3 separate regions of the Homo sapiens genome follow, and all the other regions are linked to region 1. Evidence: fine-mapped expression QTL. A gene starts in region 1. Each other region holds a variant in brackets. All regions are shown on one strand. Distances are between the middles of the regions. Region 1 holds the start of IFT88 (intraflagellar transport 88). Region 2 overlaps IFT88 (intraflagellar transport 88). Region 3 overlaps IFT88 (intraflagellar transport 88).

Evidence for each region. PIP is the estimated chance that this variant, and not a neighbour inherited with it, causes the effect. A credible set is the group of variants that fine-mapping cannot tell apart.
Region 2: its variant is the best candidate, but not a certain one, in a credible set for the expression of IFT88 in blood mononuclear cells (TOPMed, PIP 0.54).
Region 3: its variant is the best candidate, but not a certain one, in a credible set for the expression of IFT88 in whole blood (INTERVAL, PIP 0.71).

Annotation. Positions count from the first base shown.
Region 1 is chr13:20,565,238-20,571,447 of GRCh38, forward strand. It overlaps IFT88 (intraflagellar transport 88), which reads left to right and starts at 1,920. Exons shown (of 26, transcript NM_006531.5): 1 at 1,920-2,019. It overlaps LOC105370103 (a long non-coding RNA gene), which reads right to left and starts at 1,792. Exons shown (of 6, transcript XR_941725.3): 1 at 1,439-1,792; 2 at 264-313. RefSeq lists silencers at 1,620-2,029, 2,125-2,313.
Region 2 is chr13:20,677,537-20,682,536 of GRCh38, forward strand. The region is part of intron 24 of IFT88 (intraflagellar transport 88); the gene reads left to right. Among named protein-coding and RNA genes, the nearest start is that of IL17D, 24 kb to the right of the region's middle. The variant G/A (reference allele first, on the strand shown) is at 2,517.
Region 3 is chr13:20,633,097-20,639,604 of GRCh38, forward strand. IFT88 (intraflagellar transport 88) reads left to right here. Exons shown (of 26, transcript NM_006531.5): 17 at 5,236-5,422. Among named protein-coding and RNA genes, the nearest start is that of IL17D, 67 kb to the right of the region's middle. The variant A/G (reference allele first, on the strand shown) is at 2,651.

The sequences.
Region 1 (6,210 bases):
ACTACCTGCTCCACCCTGACTCATTCTGATTACCTGCTCTGCCCTGACTCATTCTCCACCCTGACTCATTCCGATTTCCTGCTCTGCCATAACTATTTTTCCCACCAAACCACTTACCCGGTCACTCTCTTTAAATTAGTCAATCAGAATTAGTTTAGCCTGTGCCGTCTAACCTTAGCCAACAGGGGAAGGACACAGCAGCAGGTGCCACAAGCGTCAGGAATAAAAACCCCTTCGCCTCCCTTGTCCAGGTGTGTGCTCACCATTGCTCCATCTGTGAGGGCGCACCCTTCTATAGAAGTAAATTGCCTTGCTGAGAAGGAAAAAAGAAAATTTTATAGTTGAGTGCTATTTCTTTTGCGGCACCAAAACTTTATTTATAATGCTGGCAAGCCTAAAATTTGTAGGTCAAGTTAGAGACCCAGGAAAGAGCTGAAGGCAGTCTGGGGGCAGGATTCCTTCTTCCTCAGAGGACCTTAGTCTTTTCTCTTATGACCTTCCCTTGACGGGATGAGGCCAACCCACCTTGTGGAGGACCAACTGCTTTACTCAAGTCTAATTTAACTGTTAATCACATCTTAAAAAATACCAGCTATCATAGTACTCCAGAACAAAGGCAGTCAGTGTCTCTGCTCACAAAACACGGGAAAGTGCAGGTGACCCATGGAGAATTGTCCCCCAACACTATGTTTTTTCTTTTTTTGGATGGAGTTTCGCTCTTGTCACCCAGGCTGGAGTGCAATACCACCATCTTGGCTCACTGCAACCTCTACCTCCTGGGTTCAAGAGATTCTCCTGCCTTAGCCTCCTGAGTAGCTGGGATTTATTACAGGCGCCTGCCACCTCGCCGGGCTAATTTTTGTATTTTTAGTAGAGACAGGGTTTCACCACGTTGGCCAGGCTGGTCTCCAACTCCTCACCTCAGGTGATCCGCCAGCCTCAGCCTCCCAAAGTGCTGGGATTATAGGCATGAGCCACTGCGCCCGGCCAACACTACTTATTTTATAAAAACTCATTAATTACTGGTGTCTTTAGACTCCCTCTGTCCCTCCCCTCCATCCCCAACATTTACTTTTAAAATTTAAGACAAAACTTAAACATTAAACAATTATGAATTTAATTCCCCCATTTATATTACATTGATTAAGCTTTACACTATGACCCAGGTTCTAGGTGGTTGGGACACAATGGTTCAATCCCTGTCTAGTAAATAAAACGGACACCTTAAGCGCTACAATCAAGGTGCGCACGGGGTGCTACAGAACAATACGCAGACAGGAGGAGGTGGGGGGAAAGGTGAGACTTCCCAGGCAGGTGTCATCCCAGAATAACTTTTACACAGGGTGACTAAGCGAGTTAGTGACTGCGCGGAAAACGGGCTTCCAAGGTTCACAAGGCTCGTGCTGCGGCTCCGGGAGTTATGTCACAGTAAGCTTACTATCATCCTTTGGGCATCTGCTTTACGGATGAGTTCATCAGGATTTAAAGGATCTTGGTTCCATATCCTTCCCCTTCCTCACAGAGGCCGCCAGCCCGGAGCCCCTCTAGGCCCTCCTCCCTCCTGCATCTACTGGCCGCGAGCCTTTCCCTCCCCGCCCCCTTCACACAGGCCGCCCCCAGCCTCCCAACCCCCCGGTTCCGTTCCACGGGAGGCCCCGGCCTCCCTGCCCTCTCCTCCACCGTTCTACCCGCATCGCCCGGCTTCCCGCAAGCCGCTGGCACCGTCCCCTCAACACCCTCCGCCCACCGCCACTCCCTTCCACTGAGGGGGACCGGGCTGCCTTCTCTCTGACCCGCCGTTCTCCGCCCCCACCCACTTCCCCAGGCCTCCCGCACCACCCCCTTCCCGCCGCGCTCTCTCCCGCCCCCGCGCTTCCGGCCCCGCCCGCCCCCGCGCGGAGGACTGTGGGAGCGGCTTCCTTGGATTCCGCGCTTGGCAACGGCTCGGCGTCGCGCTTTGGCCAACCGCTGCGTCGTCCCTGGGCCCGAATAACTGTCGCCCGCTTCCCTCAGCGTGAGGTAGGAGAAGGGCGCTGGGGCCTAGTGCCTCAGGGCCCCTGGCAGCCGTGCCCCTGCGGCGTCCTGTGTGGCGCATCCCGCCGAGGGCCTCTTCGCCCGTCTCCTGCCCGCCCCTGTCGGCCCCGGGGCGGTCTGAGGCGGGGCCCCAGATGGACTCGGCCTGCCCCTGCTTTTCTTCCTCAGGCTCCCGAGTTGTCTACTCAGAAACGCGGGCGTTGTTTCTCACATCGGTGTCCCCAGCTCACAGGCTTTTCTTGCTCCTCTGAACTGGGACGGGCGTCGCTGACCGCTTGGCGATGTCCCAAGTCCCAGTCACGCCTGACGGGGAAACTTAAAACCCAGTTAGATTACTGCGCCAGCTCTGGAATCGCACAGCAGAGATGGTGCACATCGCTCTTTAATTTTCTTGTTAGGTGAAGCACTTCAAATTGCCTGATGAAAGTTGAATCAGGAATGAAGATAAAAGTACACAACAATGCAGAAAGCGGTACTTAGCCTCACAAAGATGGAAACATTCCAAAAACGTGAAGTACTGTTGTCCCAAGATTCTTTCTAAGCCTAAAATTACACTTTTACTAGTCCGATTTTCTGGTTGTGAGTTTTTTTTGTTTGTTTTTTTTTTTTCGAGAAACTGCAGTAGGCTTCTTGGAAGTAGACCAAGGGTGTCCAATCTTTGGCTTCCCTGGGCCACATCGGAAGAAGAATTGTCTTGGGCCACACATGAAATTCACAAACACTAAGGTAGCCGATGAGCTTTAAAAAAAATCGCAAAAAAGAATCTCATAATGCTTCCAGAAAGTTTACGAATTTGTGTTGGGCCACATTCAAAGCCGTCCTGTGCCACGTGCGGGCCGGGGTTGGAAAAGCTTGAAGTAGACTGTCCATAGTCAGTAGAAGAGTATTAAAAAACATACCTTTCACTTAAAAAAAAAAAAGGTTTTGCCAGCATTTGATTTATATTAAACATAGGTGGCATCATCCCCAGATTATTTCAACATGGAAAAGTTTGTTACATGTATAAGCTGCTTTGGAAATTGCCTGGAGAATCCAGAAACCCTGGGTTGTATAACAACAGTTGTTCTGCCACCCATAGCTATTAGCCATGCTTGATTCCCTTCAACTTTCCTGGCCTCACTTTCCACATCTTTTAATATTTGTATGTTCCACAAGATGTCTATTCAACTAAAGTCTCAAGTCAAACCTTTTAAAAATCTGGTTACAACCTAGCAGAAAGGATTTCTCATTCTAAAAGTTGCTTCCTTCTATAACTTATGTGTCAACTAAGCTGACTTAAATAGGGTTCATAATCAGAAATTATGGTTCAGAATAGTGGTTCTCAAAGTGGTCCCCAGACCAGTAGCCTCAGCATCACTTGGGTTTAAGAACCACTGGTTTAGTATTATCTGAGCTAAAGCTTTTAATTAAAAATATTTTATATATCTTTTACCAGTGACTTTTAATACCTTTTTTTTTCTTTTTGAGACGGAGTCGCACGCTCTGTTGCCCAGGCTGGAGTGCAGTGGCGGCAATCTCGGTTTACTGCAAGCTCCGCCTCCCGGGTTCATGCCATTCTCCTGCCTCAGCCTCCCGAGTAGCTGGGACTACAGGCGCCCGCCACCATGCCCAGCTAATTTTTTGTATTTTTAGTAGAGACGGGGTTTCACCGTGTTAGCCAGGATGGTCTCGATCTCCTGACCTCGTGATCCGCCCGCCTCGGCCTCCCAGAGTGTTGGGATTACAAGCGTGAGCCACGACGCCTGGCCCTTTTAATAACCTTTTGAAGCTATTTTGGAATGCCATTTCTATGTGGGTGACATTTGCCCTCATAGTAGTTAATTTTCATCTTCAAAAAGTAATGAGAAATTAACTCAAAATGGATCAATGACCTAAATATAAGAGCTAAAACTGTTAGAAAAAAAGCATAGGTATAAATATTCTTGACCTTAGATTAGGCAGTTCTTTCTTAGATATGATACCAAAAGTACGTGCAACCAAAGGAAAAATAAATTGTATATCATCAAAATTTAAAACTTTTGGCCAGGCGTGGTGGCTCACGCCTGTAATCCCAGCACTTTGGGAGGCCGAGCCGGGCGGATCACGAGGTCAGGAGATCGAGACCATCCTGGCTAACACGGTGAAACCCCGTCTCTACTAAAAATACAAAAAATTAGCCGGGCGTGGTGGCGGGCGCCTGTAGTCCCAGCTGCTGGAGAGGCTGAGGCAGGAGAATGGCGTGAACTCGGGAGGCGGAGCTTTCAGTGAGCCGAGATCGCGCCACTGCACTCCAGCCTGGGTGACAGAGCGAGACTCCGTCCCAAAAAAAAAAAAAATTTTTTTAAACTTTTGTGCTTCAGAGGATAGTACAAAGAATGTAAAATGATGTACAGAATGGGAGAAAGTATTTGTAAATCATTTATATAATGTTTAGTATCAGGAATATATACAGGATCCTTATAATTCATGTGATAACCTGATTTTTGGGAATGAGCTGGCCGGGCGCGGTGGTTCACGCCTGTAATCCCAGCACTCTGGGAGGCCGAGGTGGGCGGATCACAAGGTCAGGAGATCGAGACCATACCGGCTAATACGGTGAAACCCCATCTCTACTAAAAATAAAAATAAAAATAAAAATAAAAAAATTAGCCGGGCTTGGTGGCGGGTGCCTGTAGTCCCAGCTACTCGAGAGGCTGAGGCAGGAGAATGGCGTGAAACTGGGAGGCGGAGCTTGCAGTGAGCCGCGCCACTGCCCTCTAGCCTAGGCGACAGAGCAAGATTCCGTCTCAAAAAAAAAAAAAAATGAGCAAAAGATCTGAACAGACATTTCTCCAAAGAGATATAGAAATGGATAATAAGCAGATGAAAAGATACTCAACATCATTAGTCATCAGGGGAATGCAAGTCAATACTACAATGAGATACCATTTCATACTCACTAGAATTGCAATAATCAAAAACAGGAACAGTAACAGATGTTGGCTAGGACATGGATAAATTGGAAACTTCATGCATTGCAGGTGGGATGTAAAATAGTGCAGCCACTTTGGAAAACAGTCTAGCTGTTCCTCCAAAAGTTAAACATAGAGTTACTATATGATCCAGCAATTCCTTTACTAGATATATTCCCAATAGAATTGGACCTATATATGCATGCTAAAACTTGTACACACACATTCATAGTGATGTTATTCATAAAAGTCAAAAAGTGGAAACAATTCAAATGTCCATTAACTAATGAATGGATAAGCAAAATGTTGCAGATGTATTTAGCCATAAAAAGTAATGAAATATTGATACATACTACTGCGTGGATGAACCTTGGAAGCATTATGCTAAGTGAAAGAGACCAGACACAAAAGGCTACATATTGTGTAATTTCCTTAATATGAAATGTCCAGAATTGGCAAATCCATAGAGACAGAAAATGGTTGCCAGGGACTGGGGAAAGGGAAGGGAGGCATGGAGAGCTGCTAACAGGCCCCATATTTCTTTATGGGATGATGAAAGTGTTCTGGAATTACATACTGGGGATGGTTGCACAACCTTGTGAATATACTAAAAACCACTGCACCTTGAAAAGTTAAATTGTATGGTATATGAATTATAGTTCAAAAACTAATAATTTTGTTAGTATTTAAAATATATAAATAATTTTTAAAGGTTATGAGAAGCCACATATATGTGGTATTATGCTGAGAAAAAGATTAAGCTGAAAATTTATTTTTTATTTATTTATTTTTATTATTTATTTATTTTTTGAGACAGAGTCTGGCTCTGTCGCCTAGGCAGGGGTGTGGTGGCACAATCTCGGCCCACTGCAACCTCCGCCTCCCAGGTTCAGGCCATTCTCCTGCCTCAGCCTCCTGAGTACCTGGGATTACAGGTGCCTGCTATCATGCCCGGCTAATTTTTTTGTATTTTTAGTAGAGACGGGGTTTCACCATATTAGCCAGGATGGTCTCGATCTCCTGACCTCGTGATCTGCCTGCCTCGGCCTCCCAAAGTGCTGGGATTATAGGCGTGAGCCACTGCGCCCAGCCTAAGCTGAAAATTTCTTAGGAATTTGCTGGTGCACTTAAAATGTACAGGCCTTAAGAAAATATGTATTTGCTTTAAAGAAAATACATTTCTTGAATACTAGCAATACTACATTTCTTGGGTAATTAGCCTTCCTCCACCTCCCACCCCTCAAAT
Region 2 (5,000 bases), 110 kb after region 1:
TCCTGGTAATAAGAGGATAGGCCATTTGCAAGTCAGATTACAGAGCACCTAGAAGTAAATTGGTCAGTAAAGGCCTCCTAAAGGTCCCAAAGTTATTGTCTGATGCTCTTCAGTGTTTCTAGATATAAACAAATACTTCCTCATACTTAAGGAGTGAGAATAGATCTTAATTATTGCATCTTAATAGAGGCTAAATTGAATATCATCTTCTTAAAAATAGAAGAGAGAGACAGACCAAAAAGCTTTTACAAAGTGTCTAATGGATAATGAAATCAATTTATAGCTCACCAAAAGAGAGTTATTTAAGAAGAGATTTGAAAAAGTAAGAACCACTATATTCATAACACATTCAAAGGAATGGGCAGAATTTTTTAGAAAGTTTCATTTTAGATAGTACTTTCAAAAAATAAGAAACTAATAGGGGCAGTTGATAGACTTCCTAGCTTAAGGGAAGGGGAATGTTGAAAAATGATTATATACGTATTATAATTGGGCCTTGAAGACTACAGAGGGCCATTAGATTTTTCAACTAAGATAGTTTTGATAGCCTTAAAGAAAGCAGTCTCAGTGTACTGTTAGAGGTAAAAGTCAGATTCTAATGATTTAAGAAGTGAATGAGTTGCAGGGAGGTAGAGAAGAGGATATAAACTATTCTCTCACACATGGTGGTGAAATATACAGCCTCACCAATAACTAAAACAATGCATACTTGCCAAGACCAGCTCAGTTATGGAGACCCTAACCCAGCAGTGCTAGAGGAATTAAAGACACAGACACAGAAATAGGGTGCAGAGTGGGACCAGGGGGCTGACAGCCGTCAGAGCTGAGAGCCATGAACAGAGTCTGACCCACATATTATTGACAGTAAGCCAGTGCTAAGCATTGCTTCTATAGATTATAGATTAGCTAGAAGCATTCCTTATAGGAAACAAAGCATTTTTAGCAAGGAGCAGAGAAACAGGCCCTGGCTGATTATCTGCAGCAAAAGCATGTTGTTAAGGCACAGGCTGCTCGTGCTATTGTTTGTGGCTTGAGCAGTTTTCCGCTCCGGAGGGGCCAGGTTTTCCTTGCCCTGCTCCAGTAAACCAACAACTTCTAGCAGTGTGAACCAACAACTTCTAGCAGTGTGTGTGATAGCCATCACGAGCATGTCACATTGCTGCAGAAATCCTGTTTATGACCAGTTTCTTTAAGGCCTGTTTATGACAGGCTTAGGGCTTGCTACCAGCATGTCTCCCTTTTCGTTTTTGCAAAGCGATAAAGACAAAGGCAGCTTTGTCACGGTGGGCTACTTCTCGCAAGATTTGGGATCTGCATCGGCAGACTACACAAAGACAGACAACACAGATTAAAAGCACAATCATCATTGAAATCACAGAGCCTCCAAGTGTCTTGATCCACTTTAATGGGTTAATAGCTGCTAATCCATCTGCAGCTCCTTCAAGCACTTCAGTTCCTGGCATTAGCGTCAGATGTGCCTGAGAGGCTTGAAATACTTGTTTCTTCAGTTTTACAATATCTAAAGATAAATTTCCAGTATGACCCTTTAAATGTCTCCTAACTCTTTCCCACTCGTGCTCTGTTTCATTATACAGATGAGGAGTAATGCAAAAATCAGAAGTATTCCAATCACATTGTAACTGCATTCTGTATTTTAGACTAACTACTCAATCTCCTAGCCACATTACAGTTTGTCGGAGATCATTGATTTGATTAGCTAGTTTCTGGTCTATATTAGTTTGGGAATTCCACAGCAGAGTAGAATTTTTCTGCCAATTATTTACATAGTCTGCTGTTTGTACTGTGGAATGCAGAGCAACTCCAGCTACCACGGCAGTAGCTGTGACAGCAGTCAATCCCGTAATGATTAAAATTAAAGTGGCAATTAAACGCCGAGAGTGCCTCAAAATCTATCGAAGAATTTCAGTAATAATATGCGCAGAAGGAGAGGCTTCCCAAGGATGGGAAAGCTTTACAGGTATCCATACGCCTTCTCGGGCTCTTACTACTAAAATAGAATGATCAGTATTATACAAGGAAGAATTCACACAAGAAAACAATCTATATTCTTGACAAGTCATATGATGATTAGGGAGATCAAGTTTTAAATCACCCACTACAAACAGGAAAGGCGGACAGACACAACTATGTATCCAGACTGAACTGTTGTGAGCCAATTCTAACATGTAATTAGGATTATATTGGGTTGGCTTAGTATATTTTCCTTCCCAAATCTTTATCTTTTTCAGTGCCATTAATATTTTCCATAACTCCTTATGTTTAGCTCTTACATCAGGTCATATCATTTGGGGTTGAGGTACCACTATACCACCATATGCCCAAATAATAGGAACTCTTGCTGTACTTCTTATAGTGTCCACCATCTGATTATTTTGTTTATATGCAGGGTGACCATTAGCTACAGATTGAGAGGTGAGCCTCATAAATGCCCCTTTAGGGGACCAATCAATAATGACTCCATATGAATCATTACACAACACCTCTGCCTGCCTTGC[G/A]ACACAATCTTCCCAAGCAAATACCTTCATTTTTGCTGACCATGTCCAATCCAGTTTACAGATAGGTTTTTGAGGGTGGTAAACTTCGGTTACAGGAGCATAATAATTGTGATAAATACTAAGACCAGAAAGCATATGTAATTGTGTCATGGAGATGTTACATTCAGGCACTATCGCCAGCCAGGATTGATGACTGGGAGCTAAACACCTATTGGCTTTTCCCAAACAAATAGGTAAATCCTCAAATCCCAACAAGATATTCATAATAGTTCCTTCCTCTTAGGGCTTAGACGGGCCTCTATCATCTATAGAACTAGGCATCTAAAAACTTTCGTTAGTGTATACCTCCACTGGGGGGTCTAACCATGTTTCTGGCTGTAGAAGTGGTGGAAAAGGAATATATGCCCAATAAGTATAATTGTCTTTTGTTTCAGCAGTCACTGGGGGAATACTCATGGCGATGGTGAGCACAGCCATCATAGCTACCATTAGATTACTCATTGTAACTGGTTGTCCTGCCTTCTTCAGATTTTCTTCCGCCATCTGTGTCAACTTCTTGATCTGGCCCCAGGGGGGTGGCTGTGCCCGACCAGTGTTGCTCGCCAGCACTTGTGTCTTCCTTATTGTCAGTCTCAACATGGCTGCAACCGGGGGGTCCTCGGGTTCCTCCCAAAATCTCTTCCTTGGCATCTGGCTGATGATAAGTTTTCAGGTATCTTGATGGTATCCAAATCAGCTGCTGGTTTTGGCCTGGAGAACACAAGCATAACCTCTACCCCATGTTATTATTTTACCTATTTCCCAACTCGTTGTTATCGAATCTCTCCACCAAACCAGTTGTTCCGCTTCTATCTTTGCAGCTGGTTTTGGTAGATGCCGTTCAGCTGCTGATAGCATCTGGCCTTTAGATAGGCTCAAAAAATTTAAAGTCAGTAATGCTAGATTCAGTTGCATGTGTGGAGTCCTATAATCACTGTCCCTGTTTCCCCCTTCTGCTTTTGCAATTGTCATTTTAGGGAGAGATTCATTCGTTCCACAATGGCTTGTCCTTGTGAATTATATGGGATGCCAGTAATGTGTTTAATATTCCATATAGAGAAAAATGTAGCTAGAGCTTGGCTAGTATAGCCTGGGACATTGTCCGTTTTAACAGAAGCTGGAATGCACATGACCGTGAAGCGTTGCAGAAGATGCCGTTTAATACAGGCAGAAGATTCTCCTGTTTGACAGGTAGCCCAAACAAAGTGAGAAAAATGTATCTACACATACATGCACATAAGCTAGTCTCCTAAACGAGGGAACATGGGTGGCACCCATTTGCCAAAGAGAATTAGGTTCCGATCCTCGAGGATTAACTTCTCCTGTAAAAGATGAGGAATGCACCATTTGACAAGTTGGGCATCGCTGGATAATAGCTTTAGCTTCTTTCCAGGTAATGCTGTATCTGCGTTTGAGACCAGAGGCATTAACATGGGTTAAATTGTGAAAGTGTCTAGCGTTAGATATTTCAGTAGCAGCTAGGCAATCAGCCATTTGATTCCTTGGAGTCAAAAGTCCTGGAAGAGTTGTATGAGCTCCAATATGAGTAATGTAAAAAGAGTGCATTCTGTTCCTAACTGTGGTTTGTAATTGGGTAAATAAAGTCATCAGTTGTTCATCTGTGTGGAATTGTAGCTGAGCATTTTCAACTAACTGTGTGGAATGAACCACATATGAAGAATCAGAAATTACATTGGCAGGCATCTCAAAAGCAGTCAGCACCTCAATTACAGCTACAAGCTCCGCTTTTTGAGCTGAAGTATAGGGCGTCTGGAAAACTTTACGTTTTGAATAAGAAGCTTTACCATTACTAGACCCATCTGTAAAAACATTTTCAGCACCTACAGCTGGTTTAGATTTAGTTATTCCAGGGAGAATCCAATTAGTTAATTTTAAAAGTTGAAATAATTTTGTTTTCGGAAAGTGATTATCAAGAACACCTACGAAATCAGCTAAATGGGTTTGCCAAGACTATTTATAAAGTCCTGTTGTGTTAGTGTTTTTGTAAGAGGGACAATAATTTTTCCAGGGTCATATGCATGCAATTTAACAGTTTGGGTTCTCCCATTTCCTACCAGAGTAGCAATTTGATCCAAATAAGGAATTAGAGTCTGTGAATTAGCATGTGGAAGAAAAAGCCATTCTACCAAGTCCTGCTCTTGGACAATAACACCAGTAGGTGAATGCTGTGTCGGAAAAATCAGCAAGTCTAAAGTCTTTGTTGGATCTATTCTATTTATTTGAGTTGTATGCACTTGCTTCTCAATCAGCTGTAAATCTGCCTCAGCTTCCTTTGTTAATTGACAAGGGCTAGTGAGACTAGGATCTCCTCTAAGGATAGAAAATAGATTACTCATGGCATAGGTAGGAATGCCTAGAGCAGGTTGTATCCAATTAATGTCCCCTGGTAATTTTTGAAAGTCATTCAGTGTTTTCAATTGATCC
Region 3 (6,508 bases), 68 kb after region 1:
TTCTTTTTAAATATATTTAAACATTTTTTGTAATGATGGAAGCAAGTAGACAGAAGGTGTATTAGTCCGTTCTCACACTGCTATAAAGAAATAACCGAGACTGGGTAATTTATCAAGGAAAGAGGTTTAATTGACTCACATTTTTGTATGGCTAGGGAAACCTCAGGAAACTTATAATCATAGCAGAAGGTGAAGGAGAAGCAAGCACCTTCTTCACAAGGAGGCAGGAAAAGAGAGAGGGTGGGCCTTTGTACCCCCACCCCAGCCAGCCATTGGATGTGGCCTGCCTCCCAAAAAAGGGTCACCTCTAGGAAGGGGGACAAGGTGCCTCTGTCTTCCACCCAGTTTCCAGAGAGGGCTGCCTGCTGAGGCTGGTGGCCAGTAGCACCTCCAGCACCTCTGACGGGCAAGTCCATGGCGTGAAGCATGGTGTCTATCATGGCCATTAAATTTTGAATTTAGAAAATCACTAATGAATTTTTTGACCCAATTCGTCACCAAATCTTTATACCAAGTTTGACGACTGTGCAGGAGGAGACCAATAGAAAATTTAAAGAAGCAAAGAGAATTGTTAGATTTAATCAACCAAGCAGAGCTATTAGAGCATCTCATCAGCAATTTCTTATACTTGGTTCTGAAGAAAATGGTTGTAATCAAGAATGTTTTGAGGCCAAGTGATGAGTCTGCTATGTAGTTTTATATGATATGTAGTTGAAAATATATTGCTGGTATCCGGCATATAGTTGTATCTGTTTTCTCTTGCTGTGTAATGAACTGCCCCAAACCGTAGTGGCTTGAAATCACCAGGTATATGCTTACATTCTACCCAGTGAGCTGGGTTCACCTGGATGCTTCTTTTACTGGGCTTGCCTGGCCTTACTCATGCAGCTGACATCCTCTGAGGCATGACTGAGACTGGATGTTCCAAATTCCTACCTCATGCCTGTCACTTAGCTGAACTGTTGTCCAGGGCAACTCAGTCTTCCCTCAGAGCATCCCCAGCAGGGGATCCCAGCCTTCTCAGGTGGGACTGGGTTCCATGAGAGCAAACCCCAGTACACAGGTGAGTATTAGGTTCTTGTGCGCATTGAGTTTGTTATTATTTTGTTGAACAAAACAAACATGAGAGAGAATCATACCTGAATGAGTCGTACGTGAATCCTGGGAGGTGTGATCCACTGGAGTCATTATTGTAATAATCTACCACTGCCTGCACTGAGACCCCAGTTATTCATATCCCTCCCAAGACTCTGAGTCTCATTCCACCACAGCATCAGGCTCAAAGGCCAGGATCTACATCAGGTCTGGATAGAAATGGGGCTTTCTAGCTGGGTATGGTGGCTCATGCCTGTAATCCCAGCACTTTGGGAGGCTGAGGCAGGTGGATCACTTGAGGCCAGGAGTTCAAGCCTAGCCAACATGGTGAAACCTCGTCTCTACTAAACATGGTGAAACCCCGTCTCTACCAAAAATATAAAAAATTAGCCAGGCATGGTGGTGCATACCTGTAGTCCCAGCTACTCGGGAGGCTGAGGCATGAGAATTGCTTGAACTTGGGAGGGCAGAGGTTGCAGTGAGCCAAGATCGTGCCACTGCATTCCAGCCTGGGCGACAGAACGAGACTCCATCTCAAACAAACAAAAAAAAAAAAAGAAGAAATGGAGCTTTCTCAGGAACAATTTCTTCTTGATCCAAAGATTTCTTTATTTTTTTTTTTTATACTTTAAGTTTTAGGGTACATGTGTACAACGTGCAGGTTTGTTACATATGTATACATGTGCCATGTTGGTGTGCTGCACCTGTTAACTCTTCATTTAACATTAGGTATATGTCCTAATGCTATCCCTCCCCCCTCCCCCCACCCCACAACAGGCCCCGGTGTGTGATGTTCGCCTTCCTGTGTCCATGTGTTCTCATTGTTCAATTCCCACCTATGAGTGAGAACATGCAGTGTTTGGTTTTTTGTCCTGGCAATAGTTTGCTGAGAATGATGGTTTCCAGCTTCATCCATGTCCCTACAAAGGACATGAATTCATCATTTTTTATGGCTGCATAGTATTCCATGGTGTGTATGTGCCACATTTTCTTAATCCATTCTATCATTGTTGGACATTTGTTCCAAAGGATTATAAAACATGCTGCAAAAGACACATGCACACATATGTTTATTGTGGCACTATTCACAATAGCAAGGACTTGGATCCAAAAATTTCTGAATGAAAAGACATGGCACCTGTCCCATCATACATGCAACATACCATGGAGATATAAAGACAGGATAACTGTAAGACACTCATCCCCAAGGGGAGGGATGGAGGCACATCACAGTCACTATCCTTAATGATTCTGAAACCTAGCAAAGCAGGTGTGGCCAGTGCTCCCTAGTCTGAGAAAAACGAATATTCCTTGATTAGGGCCCAGCTCTGCTCCCTCGGAGTGGCCCCCTAATTCTTTGTCCTCTGTGGCTCTTGGCTCGGCCTTCTGAGAGCATCTTCCTTTTGTATAAGAAATAGCCTATGTTTCAGGAACAGAAAACCAAACACCGCATGTTCTCATTCATAAGTGAGAGTTGAACAATGAGAACACATGGACACAGGGAGGAGAGCATCATACACCGGGGCCTGTCGGGGAGTGGAAGGCAAGGGAAGGG[A/G]GAGCATTAGGACCAATACCTAATGCATACAGGGCTTAAAACCTAGATGACAGGTTGATAGGTCCAGCAAACCACCATGGGACGTGTATACCTATGTAACAAACCTGCACATTCTGCACATGTATCCCATGTTTGTTTTTAACCTAAAGTAAAAAATAAAAAAAAAAGGAAAGAAATAGCCTGTGTTTGCAGCTGATTAACTTTCTCAGCCTGTGTTCTGCCCTGAGACATTTGGGGCATAGAGGGCTTTTTTCATTTTGGACTATATCTGTCCCTTTAATCCAAACTAGCAACAGTCAGCACAACTCCCCTAAAAACTTGGAGGGTTTTCTCTAAATCTTGTTGGGCTTTCCCACATGTCTCAACAGCTGCATCCATAATTCTTTTCAGGACAGACCCCTTCCCACTAGGTGTGTAGGCTGCTATGGAACAGAGCCTTGAAGTGTCTTAGAAGCCCACTTCGCTACCTGGGAGAGAAGGTCTGCTAGGTATGACCTTAAATCTTTGTGAGATGTTTACAAAAGGTGTTACAGCCACACCTTTGAATTGTTCCCTAACCTGCCACCATCTGAGAATCTTGTGCCACCACAAGAAACTGGAGACATGAAGTAATTTTATTTTCTACCTTAGCAAGTCCTGGTTCTTCTATATTTTCTCTAAATTCTACCTGCAAACTAAACAGTTCTCTCCTTAGCTCATTTTTCTCTTCCTATACCTGATCAATCATACCCAGTTAAAATAAGTTCATTGGCCCTTCAGCATCCTACCTAGAAATCCCCTTGGCCACATGTTGCATATTTATGAGGTGCACTTCCTATCCTCCATCCCACTCTGTGGGTGCCACTTGTGTCAGTGCTTCATGGTGACAGTGTGGTTTGCACTTTATCCAGCCTCTGATGATTCCTTCTGCCTTTGCAGGCTCACTCATGCTTCACCATCTCTCCAGTCCCCAACACAGGCCCTCACAGCTTTTCTCAGTTTTGCCTGCTACGTAGTCCAAAAGACAATGTTACATGTTTTAGTTTTTAAGCAGCAGCACCTCACTTGTCGGTACCAATTTTTGTTTCAGAGTTCACATAAAAACTTGCACATGAATGTTCATGGCAGCATTATTCATAGTAACCATAAAGGTGCCTGGAAGCAACCCAAGTGTCCATCAACAATGAATGGATAAATGAAATGTGGTCTACCCATACAGCGGGACATTATTCAGCCTTTAAAAGGATTGCAGCACAGATGCATGCTAAAACATGGACGAACCTTAAAAATATTATGCTAAGTGAAAGAAGTCAGACACAAAAGACTGCATATTTTATGATTCTATTTATATTCAGTGTCCAGAATAGGCAAGGAGACAGAAAACAGATTAGTGGTTGCCAGGGGCTGGGGGAAGAGGAGGATGGGAAGTGACTATTGATGGGTACAGGGTTTCTTTTGAGGGTGGAAGTAGATATTGGCAATGGTTGCACAACTTTGTGAACCTACTAAATGCCACAGAATTCTACATTTTAAAGGGGTCAGGTTTATTATATATAAGTTATATCTAAACTTTTTAAAAAGTTTAACGAGGGACGGTCACTGTGAGTGTTATGGGAAAAGGGGCATGGGAATTTAATGTTATACAGTTGTGAAGGAGCCATGGCGGTGAAGGTGCAGAAGGGGAGCTGGAGATCTGAGGAGGAGTAACCATCAGTCAGTGAGTGGCCACACATATCTAGCTGCCACAGTAGAACCCAGAGGGCCTTCATGGGGAGTTCTGTGGGAAGCAGATGCCTCTGTGCAGCTGCCTCCTCTGGGGACCACAGCCAAACCCTATCTTGGAGCAGGGACAGCATAGTCAGGAAGAAGAGCTGCCCTTGGAGTGGAGTAAGTGAGGAGAAGCTGGTACCCATGGACACTTCTGTGTCAGACCTGCATCTGATGACAAGAAAAAGGCTTTCTGAGACTAAAGGCCACTGCTTCAGGTCTGCATTCCAGATGTCACACAAGTTCCTCTTTTGGCCAAGTCTAGACAAGAGGCTAATAGTGAAGGAGCTTCTTGGAAATGTAGTTCCTGGCTTAACCAAGCTGACCTGGCACAGATGGTCACAATATTTAAGAACAGAGAGGTTCCTGTAGCTCACGTGAATGATGGCAAGGCCCTGACCGAGCATTTGGCATGGAGACGGAAAAAAACAATGGATTGCTAGAAGTGCAGAGACCTAGTAGGTGACGCAGCCAGTGTGCTAGGGGCAAGAAGGGTAGTGCTTTTGTGACAGCTATTTCAGGGCTTCAAGTGGGAGGGGGAGTGCTGCAGCAAATGATGACATGCAATTTGGGCGTTGAGTATGGAACCACCTACATATAAATAGTGTTGTTATTCTAACCATGAGACTGTGGAGAAGTCAATCACAAGAAACTTGGGTGGTTCAGCCTGATAAGTAAAACTCTATGTAGAATCAGACTATCAAGACCAAGATATGTAAAATATTTTTGTTCATTACATTTATAATCTCAGAAAGTCTATTTATTATGTCTGTAATCTCAGAACAGTCAGAAAAGGTATTTCATGAAATTCAAATAATTTGTATATGTATTTTACTTAGGGAAAGGATTTTGCACAAGCCAGCAGCTATGCAGATATAGCTGTGAACTCTGATAGATATAATCCAGCAGCTCTTACTAATAAAGGGAATACAGTTTTTGCAAATGGTGATTATGAGAAGGCCGCTGAATTCTATAAAGAGGCTCTAAGAAATGATTCTTCTTGTACTGAAGCACTTTATAATATTGGTAAGTGAAACAAGGGGAAATTGCTTTTTAAATTATTTATTTGCTTTGTATTTGTTTTTGTTTTGTTTTGCTTAAAGAGCTCTAACACATTAGGAGGAGGAGTTGACTTCCTTCTAACGGAAAATTGAAGACTACTGCCTCTCAGATTATAGATTATTTTAAATGGAATTAATGATTCAGAAGCTATGCACATGCAAAATTTGGATCAGGCTTGCCATACTGCCCTCCAAAAAGGCTTTTCCATCACAGTGTATAATACTAATTTCCCAAATTTCTGCTAATACTGGATATTATCATTCTTTTTAACTTTTGCCAAGTTCATAGATGGGAAAAAATCCCATTTGCTTTCTTTTTAATTATGAACAATTTCAAACATGCACAAAAGTACACACAAGAAATAAGTACCCATGTACCTATCACCCCAGTTTGACACATTTTCACATTTTGCCATCTTTACTTCAGATTTTGTTTTTAATAAGCCAAATACTACAAGCCATGAAGTCTCACCACCATCACATTCTCTTCCCTGCCTTTCAGCGGTTGCCTGAAATGGGCATCATCACCCCTGGGCATGAATTTTCAGTATTGCAAACACATGTCCATGCAGTACTGGGTCTTGTCTCTTGGATTATTAATAACTTTTCTTCTGAAGTTTTCTTCTCCCTGCCTAGGTATTTTTTGCTTTCTTTGGTTTGCTTATTTTATTCTCTTTTCCATGTTATGGACTTTACTTAGATGTCTAATGATTTTGGGCTGTCTCCTGGTATTCAGGAGTTTGTGGCTAAAAACTGAGTGGAGTCTCTAAGTCCATGAGAGAGATTGATGGGTTGGCACTCTGCTATAGGGCATCTGTCTGGTCTGGTCTGTTTAGTTGGAGACCTGTCCATAAGTCAATTGGATCTTTCCTCCCAGAAAAGACTCTTTAATCTCCTGCCTGAAGGAGGAGGGAAGGCCTACTGCCAACCTTGAAGAATAGGGGAGGCAAGAAGGAATTAGCCATTTTAGGTGGAGTCTGGGAGAGCCTCATTGAGAATGTATGTTTCAAGTCATAGAAGGAAGGGAGGCTATGACCACTTGGGTATCTGG